Regions from separate parts of the Homo sapiens genome. Here regions 1 and 3 are each linked to region 2. Evidence: fine-mapped expression QTL. A gene starts in region 2. Each other region holds a variant in brackets. All regions are shown on one strand. Distances are between the middles of the regions.

Region 1 (8,201 bases), 33 kb before region 2:
GGGAGGTAAGCAATACGGAAAAAGAAAACTGTGCACCAAGAAAATAGCATGAGCAAAAGCCCAGCCTTCTGTGTTGAGGGGCTACAAGGAGAGATAACGGTCTTCTAGATCCTTTGGAGGAGAGGCAAAAATTGAAATACACAGGGGGCTCATTCTTAATGCCTTTGCCCATGATAAAGAACTTGGACTTCAGAGGCAGCAGGGAGCCTCTGAGGAACTTTAAGCAAAGCAGTGCATGACTTGATTGTATTTGATAAAGATGAGCATCAGGGTAGCAGACCAAAGCTGGAAGCTGGGAAGATACACAGAGGAGAGTCAAGGACAAAATCCTAGACACTACAACATAGAGTCTAGTAGAGAATGAAGATCCAGAAAATGAGATTGACAAGGTCTAGCCAAAAAGTAAGATAAAAATCAGATAGTATGTTATCATAGAAGCCCACAACCAAACTGGAGTTCAAGAGTGTGGTCAGGATGAAGACAGACTCTCAGGAATGATCTGAATGTGGATGGTATTTAAAGCTATGGAGCCAAAAACTATCACCTAGACAGAGTGGAGACAGATAACAGCTTGCAAAATGGGCCTCAAGCAAGATAATGGCTAGATAAAGGAGAAAGACGCAGGAACTATGAAGAAGGTAAGAACAAGTAATAGCATATTGGATAAGAGGGTAGAAGGGAGGTGAACCGCAGGGTAGATGGAAATATTTATGAAAAATTTTTAAAGGTGTGGGGAGGAAAAAAGGCTTTGGGGAAGAAGATAGAGTCAACAATCTCAATCTCAATATGAGATTGAGACAACCGAAAGACATCTTAATGAATCCAAGAGACAGTGCAATGTGTGGCTTAGTGACAGCAACTGGAGACAGACAAATTCCTAGGCAGACAGGGATGGGTCCCTGTGAAACCCAACCTCATGCCAAAGACAGTTTAAAGACTGAAAACTGAGCTGCCAGTTGCAGGTGGAGTCCACAACGAGAGTGAGAACTTCCTCGATGCCTTTTAGGCAATCAAATGGTGCTTTTTCCAAGCCGACCCGTGAACCAATCAGCACGCACTCCCCCATTCTGAGCCCATAAAAATCCCAGACTCAACCCCACAGATGGCAAACCTCTTTTGGGTCCCCTCTCACACACAGGGCTAATCACTCTTGGGCCCCCTCTCTGCTGAGAGCTTTCCTTCTATTGCTCAATGAAATTCTTCTCCACCCTATTCACTCTCCAGTGTCCATGTACCTTATTCCTCTTATTCCTCTTGGTCGCAGGAGAAGAACCCAGAATAGGCCAACCTGTAACACACACCCATTCACTGAGCTGCGGGTGGTGGGACCGACTGAGCTGTAACATGCCCCTGTTCGCCAAGCTGCAGGTGGCAGGAACAATACAAAGCTGCAACATTTCTTGGGAGGTCAAATCTTGGGACTCCCCGGATGAGAGCTGTAACACCCCTTGGGACTCTGCCATTACTGACATCTCTGAGTTTTCGGGCACCACCCACATTCCCCTCATCTAGACAACGACACCCAATGCAGAAGCTGCTGGCAACACACCCAGTGGAGCCATGGGCTGAGTGCAGATCCCTCAGCGGGCGCAGGATCCAGGCCAAGGCACAAGCCGAGCACAGCCTGCCAGGCTGAGTGGGCGGAGTGAGCTCGGTGGAATGAGGCCCCAGGCAGAGGACACAGCACCCACAGAGATTTCCGGCTGGTGAAGCAGCACCAAAGGAATCCTTACACTGCAACCCTCCCTCCTGCTCACTGAGCAACGGGGAAAAAAAGCCAGTGTGCCATTTCCTCCCGCTTGCTGAACTACAAAAGCTGCAACATTAGCACTAAGGAAGTCAAGGCTAAGAAGGTTTAGAAGTCTTCTAAAAACAGGTGAGAATTTGAATCTACAACTCTGGCGGAAGATAACAGGGTTAAATAGTTACTGACTACCCTCTATGTTCTGGCAACCATTCTAAGAAAAGGAGATAAAACAGTGAACAAAGGCAAAGTCTCTGCCCTCAAGAAGCTTTTCTAGGGGACATAAACAGAATATATACATGTACATATATATATGTACACACACACAACCAAAGAAAAAAGAGTTACTGACAACTGCTCTGCAAAAAATAAAACAGGATGATATAATAGATAATGGACAGGGAGAGAGTGGGGTGGGCCGACAAGGCTTTTCTGGGGAGATACATGTCAGCTAAAAGCTGAAGCATGAGATGGCTCCAGCCATGCAATGTAGAGAAAGGGGGAAGAGCTGGGCATCAAGAGACCCACTTGCTGTGTTAAGTCTGAGATCCCTTTCAGATGTCCAAAGAGAGACCAACCTGGAGTTTACGAACGAGGTCAGGTTAGAGATAGAATCTGAGGAGTTATCAGTATGTAGGTGGAATTTAAAACCATGGAACTAGGGCCAGGCACAGTGGCTCATGCCTATAATCCCAGCACTTTGGGAGGCTGAGGCAGAAGGATCACTTGAGTCTAAGACTTTGAGACCAAACTGGGCAAAATGACAAAACCCCATCTCTAAAAAAAGAAAAATGAGGCAGGCATGGTGGTGCAAACCTATGGTCCCAGCTGCTGGGAGCACTGAGATGGAAGGATCAGTTAAACCCAGAAGGTTGAGGTTGCAGTGAGCCATGACTGCAATGCTACACTCCAGCTGGGTGACAGAGCGAGACCCTGTCTCAAAAAATAAAATAAAATACAAGATGGCCAAATAGGAACAGCTCTGGTCTGCAGCTCCCAGCGTGATCAATGCAGCAGACGGGTGATATCCGCATTTTGAACTGAGGTACCTGGTTCACCTCACTGGGACTGGTTGTACAGTGGGTGCAGCCCACAGAGGACGAACTGAAGCAGGGTGGGGTGTTACCTCAACCGGGAAGCCAAGAGGTCAGGGGATTTCCCTTTCCTAGCCAAGAGAAGCCGTGACGGACTGCACCTGGAAAAACAGGACACTTCTGCCCAAATACTGCGCTTTTCCCAAGGTCTTAGCAACCGGAAAACAAGGAGATACTCTCCCGTGCCTGGCTTGGCAGGTCCCACGTCCACAGAGCCTCACTCACTGCTAGCGCAGCAGTCTGAGATCAAACTGCAAGGCAGCAGCCTGGCTGGGGGAGGGGCCTCAGCCATTGCTGAGGCTTGAGTAGGTAAACAAAGTGGCTGGGAAGCTCGAACTGGGCAGAGCCCACCACAGCTCAACAAGGCCTACTGCCTCCAGACTCCACCTCAGTGGGCAGGGCTTAGCTGAACAAAAGGCAGCAGACAACTTCTGCAAAGTTCAATGTCCCTTTCTGACAGCTCTGAAGAGAGCAGTGGTTCTCCCAACATGGTGTTTGAGCTCTGAGAATGGACAGACTGCCTCTTCAAGTGGCTCCTTGACCTCCATGTAGCCTAACTGGGAGACACGTCCCAGTAAGGGCCAACAGTCACCTCATATAGATGGGTGCCCCTCTGGGATGCAGATTCCGGAGGAAGGATCAGGCAGCAATATTTGCTGTTCTGCAATATTTGCTGTTCTGCAGCCTCCGCTGGTGATACCCAGGCAAACCGGGTCTGGAGTGGACCTCCAGCAAACTCCAACAGACCTGCAGCTGAGGGACCTATTAGAAGGAAAACTAACAAACAGAAAGGAATAGCATCAACATCAACAAAAAGAACGTCTACACCAAAACCCCATCTGTAGGTCACCAACATCAAAGACCAAAGGTAGATAAAACCAAAAAGATGGGGAGAAACCAGAGCAGAAAAGCTGAAAATTCTAAAAATCAGAGTGCCTCCTCTCCAAAGGATCATAGTTCCTCACCAGCAATGGAACAAAGCTGGACAAAGAATGACTCTGACGAGGTGACAGAAGTAGACTTCAGAAGGTCAGTAATAACAAACTTCTCCAAGCTAAAGGAGCATGTTCGAACCCATCGCAAGGAAGCTAAAAACCTTGAAAAAAGGTTAGACGAATGGCTAACTAGAATAAACACTGTAGAGAAGACCTTAAATGACTGATGGAGCTGAAAACCATGGCATGGGAACTTCGTGACACATGCACAAGCTTCAATAGCCAATTCGATCTAGTGGAAGAAAGGGTATCAGTGATTGAAGATCAAATTAATTAATGAAATAAAGCAAGAAGACATGGTTAGAAAAAAAGAGTAAAAAGAAATGAACAAAGCCTCCAAGAAATATGGGACTATGTGAAAAGACCAAATCTACGTTTGATTGGTGTACCTGAAAGTGATAGGGAGAATGGAACCAAGTTGGAAAACACTCTTCAGGATATTATCCAGGAGAACTTCCCCAACCTAGCAAGGCAGGCCAACATTCAAATTCAGGAAATACAGGGAATGCCACAAAGATACTCCTTGGGAAGAGCAACCCCAAGACATGTAATTGTCACATTCACCACGGTTGAAATGAAGGAAAAAATGTTAAGGGCAGCCAGAGAGAAAGGTCGAGTTACCCACAAAGGGAAACCCATCAGACTAACAGCGGATCTCTC[G/A]GCAGAAACCCTACAAGCCAGAAAAGAGTGGGGGCCGATATTCAACTTCCTTAAAGAAAAGAATTTTCAACCCAGAATTTCATATCCAGCCAAACTAAGCTTCATAAGTGAAGGAGAAATGAAATCCTTTACAGACAAGCAAATGCTGAGAGATTTTGTCACCACCAGGCCTGCCTTACAAGAGTTCCTGAAGGAAGCACTAAACATAGAAACAACCGGTAACAACCACTGCAAAAACTGCCAAATTATAAAGACCATCGATGCTATGAAAAAACTGCATCAATTAATGGGCAAAACAACCAGCAAACATCATGACAGGATCAAATTCACACATAACAATACTAACCTTAAATGTAAATGAGCTAAATGCCCCAATTAAAAGACACAGACTGGCAAATTGGATAAAGAGTCACAACCCATCAGTGTGCTGTATTCAGGAGACCCATCTCATGTGCAAAGACACACAGAGGCTCAAAATAAAGGGATGGAGGAAGATCTACCAAGCAAATGGAAAGCAAAAAAAAAAAAAAAGCAGGGGTAACAATCCTACTCTCCGATAAAACAGACTTTAAATCAACAAAGATCAAAAGAGACAAAGAAGGGCATTACATAATGGTAAAGGGATCAATTCAATGAGAAGAGCTAACTATCCTAAATATATATGCACCCAATACAGGAGCACCCAGATTCATAAAGCAAGTCCTCAGAGACCCACAAAGAGACTTAGACTCCCACACAATAATAATAGGAGACTTTAACATCCCACTGTCAATATTAGACAGATTAATGAGACACAAGGTTAACAAGCATATACAGGACTTGAACTCAGCTCTGCACCAAGCAGACCTAATAGGTATCTACAGAACTCTCCACCCCAAATCAACATAATATACATTCTTCTCAGCACCACATCACACTTATTCTAAAATTGACCACATAATTGGAAGTAAAGTATTCCTCAGCAAATGTAAAAGAACAGAAATCACAACAAACTGCATCTCAGACCACAGTGCAATCAAATTAGAACTCAGGATTAAGAAACTCACTCAAAACTGCACAACTACATGGAAACTGAACAACTTGCTCCTGAATGACTACTGGGTAAATAACGAAATGAAGGCAGAAATAAAGATGTTCTTTGAAACAAATGAGAACAAAAACTCAACGTACCAGAGTCTCTGGGACACATTTAAAGCAGTGTGGTAGAGGGAAATTTATAGCACTAAATGCCCACAAGAGAAAGCAGGAAAGATCTAAAATTGACACCCTAACATTACAATTAAAAGAACTAGAGAAGTAAGAGCAAACAAATTCAAAGGCTAGCAGAAGGCAAGAAATAACTAAGATCAGAGCAGAACTGAAAGAGACAGACACACAAAAATCCCTTCAAAAAATCACTGAATCCAGGAGCTGTTTTTTTTAAAAGATCAACAAAATTGAGAGACCACTAGCAAGACTAATAAAGAAGAAAAGAGAGAAGAATCAAATAGATGCAATAAAAAAATGATAAAGGGGATGTCACCACCGATCCCACAGAAATACAAACTACCATCAGTGAATACTATAAACACCTCTACGCAAACGAACTAGAAAATCTAGAAGAAATGGATAAACTCCTGGGCACATACACCCTCCCAAGACTAATCCAGGAAGAAGTTGAATCTCTGAATAGACCAGTAACAGGCTCTGAAATTGAGGCAATAATTAATAGCCTACCAATCAAAAAAAGTCCAGGGCCAGACAGATTCACAGCCGAATTCTACCAGAGGTACAAAGAGGAGCTGGTACCATTCCTTCTGAAACTATTCCAATCAATAAAAAGAGGGAACTCATTTTATGAGGCCAACATCATCCCGACACCAAAGCCTGGAAGAGATACAACAAAAACCAGAGAACTTTAGACCAATATCCCTGATAAACATGGATGCGAAAATCCTCAATAAAATACTGGCAAACCGAATCCAGCAGCGTATCAAAAAGCTTATCCACCATGATCAGGTCAGCTTCATCCCTGGGATGCAAGGCTGGTTCAACATACACAAATCAAAAAACATAATCCATCACATAAACAGAACCAATGACAAAAACCACATGATTATCTCAATAGAGGCAGAAAAGGCCTTTGACAAAACTCAACAGCCTTCATGCCAAAAACTCTCAATAAATTAGGTATTGATGGAACGTATCTCAAAATAATAAGAGCTATTTATGACAAACCCACAGCCAATATCACACTGAATGGGCAAAAACTGGAAGCATTCTCTTTGAAAACTGGCACAAGACAAGGATGCCCTCTCTCACCACTCCTATTCAACATAGTGTTGGAAGTTCTGGCCAGGGCAATCAGGCAAGAGAAAGAAATAAAGGGTATTCAATTAGGAGAAGAGGAAGTCAAATTGTCCCTGCTTGCAGATGACATGATTGTATATTTAGAAAACCCCATTGTCTCAGCCCAAAATCTCCTTAAGCTGATAAGCAACATCAGCAAAGTCTCAGATACAAAATCAATGTGCAAAAATCACAAGCACTCCTATACACCAATAACAGACAAACAGAGAGCCAAATCATCAGTGAACTCCCATTCACAATTGCTACGAAAACAATAAAATACCTAGGAATCCAACTTACAAGGGATGTGAAGGACCTCTTCAAAGAGAGCTACAAACCACTGCTTAAGGAAATAAAAGAGGACACAAACAAATGGAAGAACATTCCATGCTCATGAACAGGAAGAATCAATATCGTGAAAATAGCCATACTGCCCAAGGTAATTTATAGATTAAATGCCATCCCCATCAAGCTACCAATGACTTTCTTCACAGAATTGGAAAAAACTACTTTAAAGTTCATATGGAACCAAAAAAAGAGCCCGCATTGCCAAGACAATCCTAAGCCAAAAGAACAAAGCTGGAGGCATCATGCTACCTGACTTCAAACTATACTACAAGCCTACAGTAACCAAAACAGCATGGTACTGGTACCAAAACAGACATATAGACCAATGGAAAAGAACAGGCCTCAGAAATAACACCACACATCTACAACCATCTGATCTTTGACAAACCTGACAAAAACAAGAAATGGGGAAAGGATTCCCTATTTAATAAATGGTGCTGGGAAAACTGGCTAGCCATATGTAGAAAGCTGAAACTGGATCCCTTCCTTACTCCTTATACAAAAATTAATTCAAGATGGATTAAAGACTTAAATGTTAGACCTAAAACCATAAAAATCCTAGAAGAAAACCTAGGCAATACCATTCAGCACATAGGCATGGGCACAGACTTCACAACTAAAACACCAAAAGCAATGGCAACAAAAGCCAAAATAGACAAATGGGACCTAATTAAACTAAAGAGCTTCTGCACAGCAAAAGAAACTACCATCAGAGTGAACAGGCAACCTACAGAATGGGAGAAAATTTTTGCGATCTCCCCATCTGACAAAGGGCTAATATCCAGAATCTACAAAGAACTCAAATTTACAAGAAAAAAACAAAGAACCCCATCAAAAAGTGGGCAAAGGATATGAGGATATGAACAGACACTTCTCAAAAGATGACATCTATGCAGCCAACAGATACATGGAAAAATGCTCATCATCATTCGTCGTCAGAGAAATGAAAATCAAAACCACAATGAAGATTCACACCAGTTAGAATGGCAATCATTAAAAAGTCAGGAAACAACAAATGCTGGAGAGGATGTG
Region 2 (8,201 bases):
AAAGACCACCAGCTAAAAATCTTAGCAAACATATCTTCCAACCAACCAATATCAAAAAGAGTGTATAAAAGAATATCATCTTGCAGAATTCTTAAAGCACTTATAGAACTAGCTAAAATTTCAGGGAACTCTAGGAGTAGCCTAAAGTATGACAGAAATAAATAAAATATGTTCCTTCTGATCAACTAGCAATATTTAAGTAGTTGAGCAAATGTATAGCAGAGGTGGCAAACAGCCTGTGGGCCACATACAGCCACAGATGTGCTGTTTGGAATATACAGTTTTGTTTTCATTTTTTTAAGTCGAATTAGTTGTTAGCATTTAAAAATCAAGAGATTCATGGCTTCTCTTGAAAAAGGATGATCTGGCATCACTTGGCCCACATTCCTATATGGGACGCAATTAGCTAGTTAGTGCTCAGAGGCACTGTGCCCTCTAGCGAGGCCTGCCTTCTCTGGGACACCTCAGTCCCCACTCAGCTGCTGCCTGTACTTGTTACTTGCCTGTTCTCTGTGAGCTCTTGAGTTTACAGCCCTGCCTCATACAGCCTTAGATTATATTCATCAGCCCCTGTAAAACCCAAATTTTTCCTCCTTCTCTAGGTAAATTACCTACACAAAATAAGGTATCAAGGAAATGTCCAATGGAGTAATGGATCACACCACCATAAGCCACAGTATAATTCCAGTTCCTCAATCTTGAGGCTATTTCCCTCCTCCTTCTTAACAAATAACTGATAGTCTCTATTATAATTCCCTCAGAAAAGACCCAAAATGTTCCTCTCCCTCTTCAATCTTTATCCATAATGTCTCCTGCCTCCCCCCCAGATGGCGCCGTCTAACCCTGAGTGTCTCAAAATGAACCACAGTACACCCTTTGAGTTCCCAAGATTCTAATTAACCCAAATTAGAATCCTTATTTCAAAATCCACAATTCCCTCCACTCTCTCAATACAGTATTATTAAAACCTCTTCTCTTGGTCAATAGAATATGGCTATTTTAAGCTGCTGAAATTTTCCATCTGCAATGGAAATGTGTACATTATGGCAATAATAGAATTACTAAAATGAATCAAGTAAATTTTGAAAAGTTAAAGTCTATTTTACCATATTTGATAACTACACAGCACCTGAAAATCAAGTAACAACTTTCAGACGAAATTTGGGGTGGGGAGGCAACAAAGGAAATCAGCGTGATGGGAAAATAATGTAGTTAAGGACAAAGTGCATAAGTATTAGTCATAGAATTTAACAATACTTCTCATTAATCACAAAATTTAGAAAAATGATAATATTATTTAATTTTTAAGCAGAAGTGTACTGCCCATATCTCTGGGAACATAAAAGAAAAGCAATATAGAGTTTTAACATTTAAAAAGTCAGGTTCTCTGTAATGGTATTATTTCTCTTAATTGAATCAAGCAAAGATAGTCCAGAAAGCAAAGACAGATATGGTCATTTTAGAAAACGGAACTAAGTAGACAAAGAACAGCTTTTAAAAAGTTTAACTACCTAATAATAATAATTCATAATGTTGAAAAGCTACTGATGTCAAATTGCCACAAACATTCTGCTAGTTCATTAGTGAAAAGGTGGGGGGGGGTGTCAAAACCTCTGGATAAAGGAAATCAGCAATATAAACAGAAAATCAAATGCTACCAATTGCCTAGGCATGTCTGGACTTGTTTTATGAAAGCTCACTTTCACTTGAGGAAATTCTAGCATGTGTCTCCCCCAGTGTTATCTACAGGTTTCCCTCAAAATAAAGATCCTTCTCAAAGAACAGAGGCACAAAAGGCCTCCTACCAGAGGTGACAGTTACCTGATTTAAAGAAAAAATTCTTGCCAAACACAGATTTACCCATTATCACATTTGATCTTTACAATTTTTAAAGAGTAGCTTGATATCCCAAATTTATTTCTTGTTATATTTAACAATCAACACAATGTCGACTCCTCAAAAAAATCTATGTATGACAATTGCATCAAATATTAGTACATTTGCAAACAAAAATTAGTATAAAATATAAATCTTAAAATGAATAAAACCAAGTCTTCAGTGAATGCATGAATGATGGAATACAGAGACCCAAAACATGCAACTCAGATCTGTTCAACTGTTGCATTGGTTTAAAAGGGACTAATTTGAAGACTGGCATAAATATTCTTCAAATCTTAAAAACCAGTCACTTTGATGCTTGCGATGGCATAAATGAAGGATTTATGCTGGTTAATGTCCTGGTTTGGAAAGGAGCTAAGACGACATTAAAGAAAATCAAAGCTTCACAAGGTACCCTGTTTAAAGAAAATTAATTGTCATAGCATACTTAGTTTTAATGATTGGACTGGGGCCTACTCTTCACATACTGTGTTAAAGACAATCTCTTGTCTCATTTGGAGAAATCTACAGAGGAAAGAGAATAGAATAAAGGAACAGGTTAGGAGCACCTCAGCAAACTAGGTAAGTCTGTAATTGGGAATTCTGGAAATGAGGGAAAGGCAGCGAGCATTACTCAGAGGTCATCAGAACGCAGCAAGAAGGAATGAGAGGGAGAAAAGTTAAAAAAAATAATAATAATAATCACTTGAGGCAAGGTGTATCCTATAAAGAAGGCTCAAAAGAACGCAGAAAACTGGGGAAGAGGCCTTGGTGAATTGGCGAATGTTTTTCAGTCTCCGCTGTGACGGTTCCTAATCCTAGAGAACTGTTTACAGATTTGAATCAAAGCTACAGACAGTTCAGCGTCGCCCACATCCACCTTACATTCCTAAGATGTGCATGCATACACACGAACCCACACACGCACCTCAACCCGGTATGGATGCCATCACGAAGGATGGAATCCCCCGACTCCCACGGGGCGGGGGCAACTGAGAGGGCCAAGGCAGCTGCACGCACAGATGATCCACCTGGTCCACGTGAAATGCCTGAAACAAGCAAACTGATAAATAGAAGCAGCGCAAGCCCTGTCACGTGGAGGGCAGATGGAAAGAGCATCGGAAAGGAACCGCTAGTCCCCGGCGCTCCAGGGGCTCGTCCTGAAAGCTCCGCGGCTCCCAATCGCCCGCACTTACCGGAACCCCCGGGACGCGCCGGCAGTCTCCGCGCCGCGTCCGCCCGGGACGCCCGCGACGCCCGCCCTGCGCGCCCGGCTCGGCCCAGCTCGACCCAGCCTCTTCTCGGAGCAACTTTCTCCGCCGGCCGCCGCCGAGCCCCCTCCGCAGCCGAAGGCTGACTGTCAAAAGTCAGTCCAACCCGACCCACAGGGAAACAGCTGCAGGAAGTGACTGCGGAACCGGGAGGCGGTGGAGGAGGAGACTGAGGGCGCCGGCTCGGCGTCGCCACTGCGCATGTGCTTGGCGGAGCAGGCCCGGCAGCGGTGGCAGCGGTAGCAGTGGCGGCTCCCGCATCCCCGGCGGGCGGCGCGTGGGTCAGGTGCCCTGGCCGCGAGCGCAGGGGCGCGGGGTTAGGCCGGCGTGGGGAACAAAGGCACGAGTGAGAGGCGGGAGGGTCCCGCCGCCAATCTCAGCAGACAGCCCCGAAGAGCAGTTCAGCAGATGCCCTGGAAAGTTAATCCTTGGTAGAAGCCTGGGCAGAGCTTTTGCAACTTTCATCTCCAGTCATTGGGATCCAAACATTGTTCATTCTGTTCCTCCCTTAGCCTGCTGGTTGGCGGTTAAGGCGGCTGAGTGGATCCTTTAAACTGCTGCAACAGAACCTTTAAACTGCTGCTCTCCCCACTTCCGCCCCAGGATGGAGGAAGAAGAGCGTGGCTGCCTGCCCAGTATCGGCCTCCCTCACACAAAACGCCCCCACCCACCCACACACACACCTTCCCTCCCCTACACGAAAGTGAGCAGGAGATAGAGGAGACTTTCTCCTGACCCCCAGAGGCTCACCTGCAAGACAGGAAGGACCAGGAAAAGAGTGGCCAACGCTAGGATGTCACATCCTTCATAACCAACCTGGACATCTTCAATGTTAACACTGAGTGATGAGCTGAGGAAATTCCGGCTCTAAACTTATAGCGTAAATTAACTCGTATGAAGATCTGCTGGGGTATTATTTTTGTGTGTGGCAAACGATAACAAATATACTACTTTAAGAGTACAGGCCGGGCGCGGTGGCTCACGCCTGTAATCCCAACACTTTGGGAGGCCGAGGCGGGTGGATCACGGGGTCAGGAGATCGAGACCATCCTGGCTAACACGGTGAAACCCAATCTCTACTAAAAATACAAAAATATTAGCCAGGCGTGGTGGTGGGCGCCTGTAGTCCCAGCTACTCGGGAGGCTGAGGCAGGAGAATGGCGTGAACCCGGGAGGCGGAGCTTGCAGTGAGCCGAGATCGCGCCGCTGCACTCCAGCCTGGGTGACAGAGCGAGACTCCGTCTCAAAAAAAAAAAAAAAAAAAGTACAGTTCAGTGGCATTAAGTACATTTGCATTATTGTGTGGTTATTTTTTAAAACACGAATTAAAATGCCAAGGAGATCTAAGTATAGTAAGATGTGCCCTATTAGTAGGGAAACAACTGCAGGAAATCAAGGCTGTTTCTTTGGCTGAAAAATGCACCAATCCAATACCAACAACAACAAACCATAAAAGACTTCATAAGTACAATGAATATGAAGTACAAACATATACACACAGTGTACACCAGCCATTTGGGGAGAGTAATCCATCACCTGAATTGTTTTTCCAGCTGTATAGGTACATTTACTTTATGTGTCACTATTTTAAAGGGCTATATTGTTTCTAAAATAATAAATGCTGCTAAAATCCACTCTCCAGCCCCTTTTCTATATGGTCTTTAGCCAGTCTTAGAACTTCACAGTCCACACTCCTTATCTAGGACCACAAGTAGGCCTTGCGGAGCCTTTCCGATCTGACCTTCCACCAGTCTCCCCTCATCATTTCACTCACACCCCCATCCATGCCCCTTCATTTCCTGCCTCTGTAATTTAGCTCTGTCTGCATCTTGAATACAAAATGCTTTCTCTCCCCTCCCCTTGAATTGTCAAATCCTACCTGTCCTTCCAGGCCTCTTCTTTCATGAGGTCCCACAGCACTTTTCTCCGCACACCTTGATGACACACTATTTGTTGTCCCACATTATAATTACTTAAGAGATATTTCCTCTGCCCTGTAAATACCTTGAGTCCAGGAAGGATAAATGTCTTGGAGTTTTCAAGTTTTATGTTTGATAGTTTGATGTGTTCTTGTCCATCAGGATGAAAATCTGAACAATTCCATGTTCTCTGCTCACATACTCTTCTCAGACAGCTAGGGCATTTCCTTCCCTGCCTCGGGGAGAAAGAAAAGGCAAATCTGATGCTTGTGTAATAGATATTTGAAGCTCATGGCAGTGACAGTAGTCTCATAAGTCAGAGTTTGTAGTTTAGAATTGGCTGGACTTCATGAGTTTCAGCACATGAGGTGAAAGGAAAAAAAGCCACAAACAATATATTCATCACTTTTGCGGTTGAAAAAAAAAAAAATGGCTGATGGCCACAAAGGTTTATTTCTTATTTGTATTACATGCTGGGTCAGCTGAGGTTCTGCTCCATGGGTCTCCTCAATCCAGTGCCCAAGCTGAAGAAGCTGCCCCTATGTAGAACTTGGCAATTCTCAAGGGAGATGGGAAGAGCCAGAAAGCTGTTAGAAACTTGTGAAGCCTCTTAAAGCTGCTTCTCTAATGTCTCATGACATGTCTACTCAAATCCCATTGGCCAAGGTCTTTCATATGGCCAAACCCCAAGTAAGTGGAGAAGTCTACTTCTTTCATAGGCAAATCACATGGCAATGGGCATGGATTGTAATTTTTTTGGAGTGGGGGTTGTGTGGTTAATTGTAAACAATAATGCAATCTGCCACAAAGATGGGGGAACCAATTTTCTCTCCCCAGAGATATTGGTGTATGTCCCAAAGAAAGGCCTATAAATCCCCACCCACCCACCAGCCACACACACCCAGTCGTTGGGATTCCTTTGAAAGAAACTGTGGAGCTAGAAATAATACAATTCCCACATGTGTGAAGATCTAGAGATTGGGGGCATCTGAGCTCTATTCCCAGTGGGGATCAGAAAAGCAATCAAGGTCTAGGGTTTTGCCTCAATAAGTCAAAAGAGAGTAGGATGTTAGCCTGAACTGTTTCAGCCAGAGGAATGCCCCTAAACTTTTTTTTTTTTTTTTTTTAGTATTTATGGCATTAGAGACTATTCAAGGGAGCTGACAGCTGTAGGGGGCTGATGAGCCTACAGGTCGGAAAGGGGAAGGATAGAACTGAATGAACAGAGCACTGATCTGATAGCAGAGAAAAAATAGACATCGCCTATTGAGGTCAAAGCCAAGGCGTGTTTGCACTGATGTCTACTTCCTCTTGCCACCTGCCTCCCCACTTCACCCAACCCCACCCCAAATTTTAGGGTTATCCTCAGAAAAATAAGGGGAAGCAGATCATTTTGAAGTGAATAGATATTAGCCAGAAATGACTTGGAGACAGGAGAGATTTGTGGGTAATAGAAATACATGTAGAATTGACTAATTTGTTTCTCTCTTGAAAAAGAACAGGATCTCAACATTGAGACTAATTTTAATTACTTTTTTAAAAGCAACGTTTTTATACACTGACTTTCATGACCTGATATAGTATAACCAGTACATTTGGATGACCATAGTTGATTGCATAAATGTATGAATGAATGAGGAATTTATTTTCTGCATTCTGTAATAGGCATTATAGTGCCTGCCTATGTACTTCACTGCAATGTTTCCTTTTTTAATGTAACTATTATGTGGGAAACTCTCTGAATTTATCAGAAAGGAACTCTCATATTAAAATAAGGATAATTATTTTTCATTATGCTAGACCGTATATTGAGAAAATCTACATTTGTATTTATTTACCAAGGAGATGGTCCTAACACACTTAACTTTTGGTGGCATGGCTTTAGGTTTTGGGAATCTGTCCAGAAAGCTACATGATGTACTCACAATCAGGAGAAAAACACACATCCCTCTCCAGGGACTGATACAATTCGTCAGGTCAGATCCTCTCTTGTATGGGAGTTTGTGTCATCCTTTGAGACTCCACATACCTTTTCTTTCATAACACATAATGTCTTCCAGACCGACTTCTTTCTTTAAATCATCAGAGAATGCCTCCAACATTCATTGTCTCTCATAATAACCTCGGCTTTTCAACACAATCCTTCCTTACAATCAGAGTAAAGCAATACAAAAATCTCAAATCCAGCAAAATAGGCTCTCGTGCATTTTAATAATATTCTAACATTTTTTAGCCTAAAAATAAAATATGAAGAAATAGTGGAAACATGGCAACAGCAGTCGCAAATTTTTTTTCCCTGAATTCCCCTAATTTTAAAAATGGACCTTGAGAAGAATGTGTATTCTGAAAACAAAAGGGGGGGCGCACAAAATAGATAGCAAAACCAAAGGCCTATAGCCAACTATAACAAAATATAGGAGGGAGTGGGGACAAACCACCAATAGCTACGAGACCTGTGTGGCATCAACAGGAGAAAGTAGAGAGAAACAACAGGGCAACTGACAGAAGAAAACCAAGGTGCTCTCAGCTCTCCATATCCACTGGGTTCTGCAACCACAACTATGGATCAAAAATATTTTTTAAAAAATTTGAAAATAATATAACAATGATCTACAGAGCATTTACTTTGTATTAGCTATTATAGCAATCTAGAGATGATTTAAAGTTTACTGGAGGATATACATATGTTATATACAAATACTATGACATTTTATATCAAGGCAGCTGCAGATTTGGGTATGCTGGGTCTGGAGGGTCCTGAAACCAATCCCCCACATACTGAGGGACAGCTGTAGCTGATGGGACTCACTGGAAAGTTCAGAGAGCCAATTTGAGAACAGTAACTGAAACTGAGAGGAGCTTTGCGCTTCTAAGAGTGGATTCGTGCAATGGGTAAGAGGGGAGTTTTGACAGGACTTGTGGATGGAATGGTTATATAACAGGCACTGTAGCTTAAAGAAAATTAAAGTTAGTTTCTGGGCCAAGTTTGAGGACTAATAACCCTGGAAACACAGACCTCAGAGCTAACTGAGAGTGTGTTCCTGAGTAGACTATACAAGACACAATATTTATAGGTTCTGCTACTAGAAAATGGGAGAAGGGGAGTAGTGAAGCAAAGGGGATGTTCTACGGT
Region 3 (8,201 bases), 61 kb before region 2:
TGGTTTGTTTCTTTATGAAAAGAGTGTTAAATTTTTATCAGCTTAAAATAATGGGTTATAAGATAATATTTGCAAGCCTCACGGTAACCTCAAACAAAAAAACATACAACAGATACAGAAACTAAAAAGCAAGAAACTAAATAATATCACCAGAGAAAATCACCTTCAATAAAAGGAAGACAAGAAGAAAAGAAAATAGGAAGAGAAGACCAGAAAACAAATAACAAACTGGCAGGAGTGAGTCCTTACTTATCAATAATAACAGTAAATTAAATGGACTAAACTCCCCAATCAAAACACACAGAGTGGTTGAATGAACTAAAAAAAAGAAAGACCCATTGATCTGTCACCTACAAAAAAAAAAAAAAAAAAAACCACGTTTTACCTATAAAGACACACATAGACAGAAAAATAAAGGGATGAAAAAATCTGTTCCATGCCATTGGAAACCAAAAATGAGCAGGAGTAGTCACACTTATTTCAGACAAAATAGATTATAAGACAAAAACTGTAGGAAGAAACAAAGAAGATCATTATATAATAATGGTAAAGGGGTCAATTCAGCAAGAGGACATAACAATAGTAAATATACATGCACAAAACACTGGAGCACCCAGATATATAAAGCAAATATTATTAGAGCTAAAGAGAGATAGACTCCAATACAATAATAGCCGGAGATGTCAATGCCCCATTTTTAGCATGGTACAGAAAATCAACAAGGAAACATATGACTTAATCTGCCCCATAAAACAAATGGATCTAATAGATATTTATGGAACATGTCATCAAATGGCTGCAGAATACACATTCTTTTTCTCAGCACATGGATCATTCTCAAAAATAAACTATATGTTAGGTCACAAAAAAAGTCATAAAACATTCAAAAAAACTGAAATAATATCAAGCATCTTCTCTAAAAACAATGGGATAAAACTACAAATCAGTGACAGGAGGAATTCTGGAAACTATACAAATGCATGGAAATTAAACAATATGATCCTGAATAACCAGTGGATCAATGAAGAAATTAAGAAGGAAGTTGAAAACTTTCTTGAAACAAAATGATAATGGAAACACAACATACCAAAAGCTATGGGACACAGCAAAAGTGGTACAAAAAGAGAAATTTATAGCCAGAAACATCAAAAAGGTAGAAAAATTCAAATAAACAACATAACAATGAATCTTAAAGAACTAAAAAAGCAAGAGCACACCAAATCCAAAATTAGTAGAAGAAATAATAAAGATCAGAGCAGAAATAAATGAAATTGAAGTGAAGAAAACAATACAAAAGATCTTTGAAGCAAAAATTTGGCTTTTTGAAAAGTTAAACAAAATTGACAAACCTTTAGCCAGGCTAAGAATAAAAGAGAGAAGACTCAAATAAATAAAATCAGAGATGAAAAAGGTGATATTACAACTGATACCTCAGAAAGCAAAGGATAATTAGTGGCTAGTTTGAGTAACTATATGGCAATGAATTGGAAAATATGGAAGAAACTGGCAAAACGCTAGACACATACAACCTATAAAAATTAAACCATGAAGAAATCCCAAACCCAAACAGACCAAAAAAAAAAAATAAAAAAATCTCCCAGTAAGGGAAGCCCAGGATCCAATGGCTTCACTGCTGAATTCTACCAAATGTTTAAAGGAGAACTGATACCAATTCCACTGAAACTATTATAGAGGAGGGAATACTTTCAAATTCATTCTACAAAGCCAGTATTCCCTGATGTCAAAACCAGGCAAAATTCATCAAAAAAAGAAAACTACAGGCTAATATCTCTGATAAATATTAATGCAAAAATATTCAACAAAATACTAGCAAACCTAATTCAACAATATATTAAAAAGATAATTCATCATAACCAAGTGAGATTTATTCCAGGGATGCAAGAATGACTCAACATATAAAAATCAATCAATGTGATACAGCATATCATCAGAATGAAAGACAAAAACTATATGATTATTTCAACTGAGGCTGAGCAAGCATTTGACAAAGTTCAACATTCTTTCATGATAAAAACTCACAAAAAAACTGGGAATAGGAGAAATACACCTCAACATAATAAAAGCTACATATAACAGACCCACAGATAGTATCATACTGAACAGATAAAAAAACGAAATGAAAGCCTTTCCTCTAAGAGCAGGAACACAACAAGAATGCCCACTTTTACCACTGTTATTCAACATAGTACTGAAAGTCTTAGCTAGAATGATCGGATATGAGAAAAAAATAAAGGGTATCAAATTGAAATGGAAGAAGTGAAATTATCCTTGTTTGCAAATGATATGATCTTACATTTGGAAAAACTTAAAGACGCAACCAAAACACTATTAGAACTGATAAATAAATTCAGTAAAGTTGCAGGACATAAAATGAACATACAAAAATCAGTAACATTTCTATATGCCAACAGTGAACAATCTGAAAAAGAAATTTAAAAAGTAATCCCATTTATGATAGCCAAACGTAAAATTAAATACTTAGGAATTAACCAAGGAAGTGAAAGATCTCTATAATGAAAACTATAAAACACTGATGAAATAAATTGGACACCAAGAAATGGAAAGAAATCCCATGTTCATGGATTGGAAGAATCAATATTGTTAAAATGTCCACACTACCCAAAGCAATCTACAGATTTAATGTAATCCCTATTCACATACCAATGACATTCTTCACAGAAATAGAAAAAACAATCCTAAAATGTTTATGAAACCATAAAAGACCCAGACTAGCCAAAGCTATCCTGAGTGCAAAGAACAAAACTGTAGGAATCACACTAGCTAATTTCAAATTATACTACAGAGCTATGGTAACCAAAACAACATGGTACTGGCACAAGAACAGACACATAGACCAATGGAACAGAATAGAAAACCCAGAAACAAATCCATACACCTACAGTGAATACATTTTCAACAAAGGTGCCAAAAGTGTACATTACAGAAAAGACAGTCTCTTCAATAAATTGTGCTGGGAAAACTGGATAACCATATGCAGAAGAACAAATTTTATCTATATCTCTTGTGTTATATAAAAATCAAACGAAACCGGATTAAAGACTTAAATCTAAGACCTCAAACTATGAATTTACTACAATAAAACACTGGGGAAATTCTCCAGGACATTGTTCTGGGCAAAATTTTGAGTAATACCTCACAAGCACAGGCAATCAAAGCAAAAATGGATAAAGAGGATCGCATCAAGTTTAAAAGCTTCTGTACAGAAAAGGCAACAAGCAATAAAGTGAAGAGACAACCCACAGAATGAGAGCAAATATTTACAAACTACCCATCTGACAAAAGATTAATAACCAGAATATATAAGGAGCTCAAACAACTCTACAGGAAAAAAATCTAATAATCTGATTTAAAATAAGCAAGAGATTTGAACAAACATTTCTCAAAAGAAGAAACACAAATGACAAACAGGCATATGAAAAGGTGTTCAATATCATTGATTATCAGAGAAATGCAAATCAAAACTACAGTGAGATATCATCTTACCCCAGTTAAAATGGCTTATATAGAAAAGACAGGCAATAACAAATGCCAGTGAGGATTTGGAGAAAAGGAAACGCTCATACCCTGTTGGTGGGAAAGTAAATTAGTAAAACCACTTTGAAGAAGTTTTGAGATTCCTCAAAAAACTAAAAATTCAGCTACCATGCAATCCAGCAATCCCATTGCTGGGCATATACCCAAAAGAAAGGAAATCAGTATATCAAGGAGATATCTGTACTCCCATATTTGTTGTAGCACTGTTCACCATAGCCAAAATTTGGAAGCACCCTAAGTGTCCATCAATAGATGAATGCATAAAGAAAATGTGATACCTATACATAATGGAGTACTCTGCAGCCACAAAAAAGAATGAGATTCTATTATTTGCAACAACAAAGGATGGAATTGGAGGTCAATATATTAAGTGAAATAAGCCAGGCACAGAAAGATAAATGCATGTTCTCACTTATTTATGAGATCTAAAAATCAAAACAATTGAACTCATGGAGATAGAGTGTAGACTGATGGTTACCAGAGGCTGGGAAGGGTAGTGAGGGGAGGGGAGGAAGTGGGGATGGTTAATGGGTACAAAAAAGTAGTTAGAAAGAGTGAATAAGACCTAGTATTTGATAGCATACCAGGTTGACTATAGTTAATAATAATTTACCTGTACGTTTTAAAATAACTAAAAGAGTATAATTGGATTGTTTGTAATACAAAGGACGAATGCTTGAGGGGATGGATACCCAATTTTCCATGATGTGATTATTATGCATTGCATGCCTGTACCAAAATATCTCATGTACCCCATGTATACACCTATGTACCCACAAAAAC[T/TAA]AAAAAAAAAAAAAAAAAAAACTACAACCCAGGAAAATCTGCCAGATTGCCACTGCCTGTCTGTTTCAACTGAAGATGTTTCTAACCCAAATCTGGCCATCTTCTCAACTGACTGCCCTCCAGACTCTAAAGAAACTAATTTATAGGCTGTTCCAAATGTTAACGTTATTTTTCTCTGTTTTCATAGAAATGTCTCTTATCAAAGATGTTTGGCCTAACTTTGAGAGCCCATCTGCAATGCCACCTGTTGCAATGGGAAACAACAGTTTAACTGATGTAGTATCACAACTAAGAGACGGATTCAAGAAGATATGGCATGACATACTTATATTTGTTCTTTTCTGCTTATCCCAATTTGTTTTGCTCCCTCTTATCTCAAAACTTCTAACCCAAATCTCTCCATAGCTACCAATCCTACTTTAATAAGTGACACTTCTGTGTTTTTTTTTTTTTTTTGAGACAGGGTCTCTCTCTGTCACTCAGGATAGAGTGGCACAACCTCAGGTCACTGCAACCTCCCCCTCAAGGCTCAAGTGATCCTCCAACCTCCCCCTCAAGGCTCAAGTGATCCTCCCACCTCAGCCTCCTGAATAGCTGGGACTACAGGCACGTGCCACCATGGCTAGCTAATTATTTTTTTTTTTTCTGTAGAGATGGGCTTTTGCCATATTTCCCAGGCTGATCTCAAACTCCTGGGCTCAAGCGATCCACCCACCTCAGCCTCCTGAAGTGTTGAGATTACAGGCATGAGCCACTGCGCCCAAACATTAATAAGCGAAACGTTCTAAAGTTTCAAGTGGGGGACTAAAGGAAACTAAGAAATGTTTCACTCCAAAATATACTTCTTTGACATATTTTGAGATGACTATTCAGAGGGCCTGCAACACAAGAATCAGCCTGCAAAGCTGAGTCTTTTACGGGGATTTGCATCTCTAGAGGAAATAAAGTGAAGTAAACAACAGATGCAAACAGGCTTTTTCTGAAGCCCCACCTTGTCCAGAACAAGGCAAGATTAACTGAGAGCCTGACACCTTTAAAGGTTTTATAGAAACATCTACCACAGGCTCCCATCTCTTTTTTTTTTTTTTTTTTTTTTTTGAGATGGAGTCTTGCTCTGTCGCCCAGGCTAGAGTGCAGTGGTGTGCTCTCAGCTCACTGCAACCTCCGCCTCCCGGGTTCAAGCTATTCTCCTGCCTCAGCCTCCCAAGTAGCTGGGACTATAAGCACCCGCTACCACACCCAGCTAATTTTGTATTTTTAGTAGAGACGGGGTTTCACCATGTTGTCCAGGCTGGTCTCGAACTCCTGACCTCAGGTGATCCACTTGCCTTGGTCTCCCAAAGTGCTGGGATTACAGGCATGAGCCACCGTACCTGGCCTCCCATTTTTCCTTTCTGAGGGCTGCTACCTGTGAGATCATCTGCATAACAAGACCACCTTTGCAGCACACCTTGCCTCTTCTCTCCTTCCCATAACCTCTCATGCCACCATAACCTGTCTTGACAAGCTTCAAGCCCCTATTCTTTCTGTAACCTCAAGATAGTATTAAAGAGTTGTGAATGGAAAATAAAATTTTGGGACCCCCTATTCACCATACCTAAGGGAAAAAGTCAAGCTTGAGAACTGAGTCACACAAAACTGCCTCCCATTTTGTTCCTCAACAGCTACAAAGATGAAAGACTACCTACATACCTCCCTCGCAATTTGCTCACGAGCAAATTTTTTGTGGGCCCTCAAGATCCTTACCCTAAAACAGTTCTGTTGAATTTCACCCTGACAATAACAAACAATTTATCTTCAGAAGAACGGGACAAAGGATAGAACCAGAAGTCATACCTCTGCTCACCTGAGACAAATGCATATTTGACTGCTTCCTCTATTCTGTTTACTTATCTTATGTAAAAACGTAGATTCACTGAGCATGAGACAAATGCCTCTACCCTCTCCTTTCACATGTAAAATGTGGATCCACTGAACGCTGATGAAATCTTCAAAAGATTGCAACTTCTTGCCTCTTTCATCTACACTTCTTTTCTCTCCTGCCCATGTTTTCCCCTTTAAATATGGAAGCACTCAAAATCCTCTTTGGAAAAAAAGTGTGGGCCACAGATTCTATTGTGGCTAGTGGCTTTTTTTCCTGGGTGTATCATCAACCTTGGCAAAATAACTCTCAGTTGATTGAGATCTGTCTCAGATACTTTTTGGTTTACAGCATCAGCTGTCTGGACATTTGAGTTTTTCATATTTTGTATGACTCCCATGCCCATATGTACATTAATAAATCTGTATGCCTTTTTTCCTGTTAATCCATGGTCAGTTTGTTTTACAGACTCAAATTATCAAAGCTTCAGTGAAAAAAATTAAACTTTTATACACTTTGCATATATAAAATAATTTATAATTTTCCAAGTCTTCAGCTATGTACACCTATGGTCACAGTAGCATTATTCACAATAGCTAAAAGGTAGAAGCAACGTAAGTGTCCATCAGTGGATGAATAAACAAAATGTCATCGATACATGCAATGGGATATTATTCAGCCTTAAAAAGGAAGGAAAGTTGATAAATGCTTGAGGTGATAAGATACCCCAATTACCCTGATTTGATCATTACACATTGAATGTTTGTATCAAAATGACACATGTACCCCATAAATACGTACAATATTATATATCCCTAATTAAAAATAATTTTTAAAAATGAAGGAAATTCTGATACATACTACGACATGGATGAACCTTGAGGACATTATGCCAAGTGAAATACGCCAGACACAAAAGGACAATTGTCATATGATTCCACTTATATGAGGTACCTCAAGTAGTCAAAATCATAGAGACAGAAAGTAGAATGGTGGTTACCAGGGACTGGGGAAGAGAGAATGTGGAGTTATTGTTTAATGAGTAAAATTTCCGTTTGGGAAGATAAAAAATTTCTGGAGATGGAGAGTGATTATGATTGTAAACTAAATGGTTAAAATGGTAAATTTTATATGTTTTGCTATTTTTAAGGGTTTAATTTTTTTAAATTATTATTACATAAATGTCCATCAATAGAGGATCAATAACAGAAATTTTAGAAATCATACAAGGAAACACCACAGAATGAAAAACAATGAAATAGATCCACATGTGCTGGTATGGAATGCTTGCCAAGGTCACACACACACACACACACATACACACACACACACATACCCCAAGGTGATGAACAGAACAGTAGGGATGGAATGCCTCCATTCACGTTACATAGACTTTATCTGGAAAAGACTCAAGAAACTGCTAACCGCGATCAATTGCCGCTGGGCAGGGGGGACATGGCAGCATGGAGTTCAGGAGTGAGTTCAGGACTTATGTATTTCGAAAAAAAAAAACAATTCTTTTTGAAAACAGCAATCTTCTAAATTATCCATAGTACTGAAAGAGAGGAATAAAGAAGAAATAACTAGATCCACCCCTAATACCCCAGTTATGGGGATCTGAATTTCAAGAGGTCAAGTGACAAGCCAGGGAACACACTGGTGACAGAACTGAGACCAGTTACCCAGTATGTACTTTTTCTGAATGTTTGAAATATTTAATAAAACTACTTTTTTAAAAAAGTCTCTTTCTTCATTGCTAGCTTATTAAAGCAGAAAATATTGTTTTCCCCAAAAATAAACTATGTTTGGGAAAATTTTAATATTTTATAGTTTAATTTTTATGTCAGCAAGATTTCCATGTTTGGTAACATTTGCCCTTGTATATAATTGTGTTTTTAAATTTTCAAGTCTTCTTTGATGAAAGATTTTTCTAGTCCTTTACTTCCTGGTTGGGGCCTTCATTGACCATTATTTTAATTTC

Evidence for each region.
Region 1: its variant is fine-mapped to the expression of ZMAT3 in whole blood (TOPMed, PIP 0.91).
Region 3: its variant is fine-mapped to the expression of ZMAT3 in neutrophils (CEDAR, PIP 0.95).

The regions. Positions count from the first base shown.
Region 1 is chr3:179,035,893-179,044,093 of GRCh38, forward strand. All of the region lies in intron 2 of ZMAT3 (zinc finger matrin-type 3), which reads right to left. Among named protein-coding and RNA genes, the nearest start is that of ZMAT3, 32 kb to the right of the region's middle. The variant G/A (reference allele first, on the strand shown) is at 4,494.
Region 2 is chr3:179,068,521-179,076,721 of GRCh38, forward strand. ZMAT3 (zinc finger matrin-type 3) reads right to left here and starts at 3,289. Exons shown (of 6, transcript NM_022470.4): 1 at 3,075-3,289. RefSeq lists silencers at 3,016-3,165, 3,306-3,715.
Region 3 is chr3:179,007,161-179,015,361 of GRCh38, forward strand. No RefSeq gene overlaps it. Among named protein-coding and RNA genes, the nearest start is that of ZMAT3, 61 kb to the right of the region's middle. The variant T/TAA (reference allele first, on the strand shown) is at 4,360.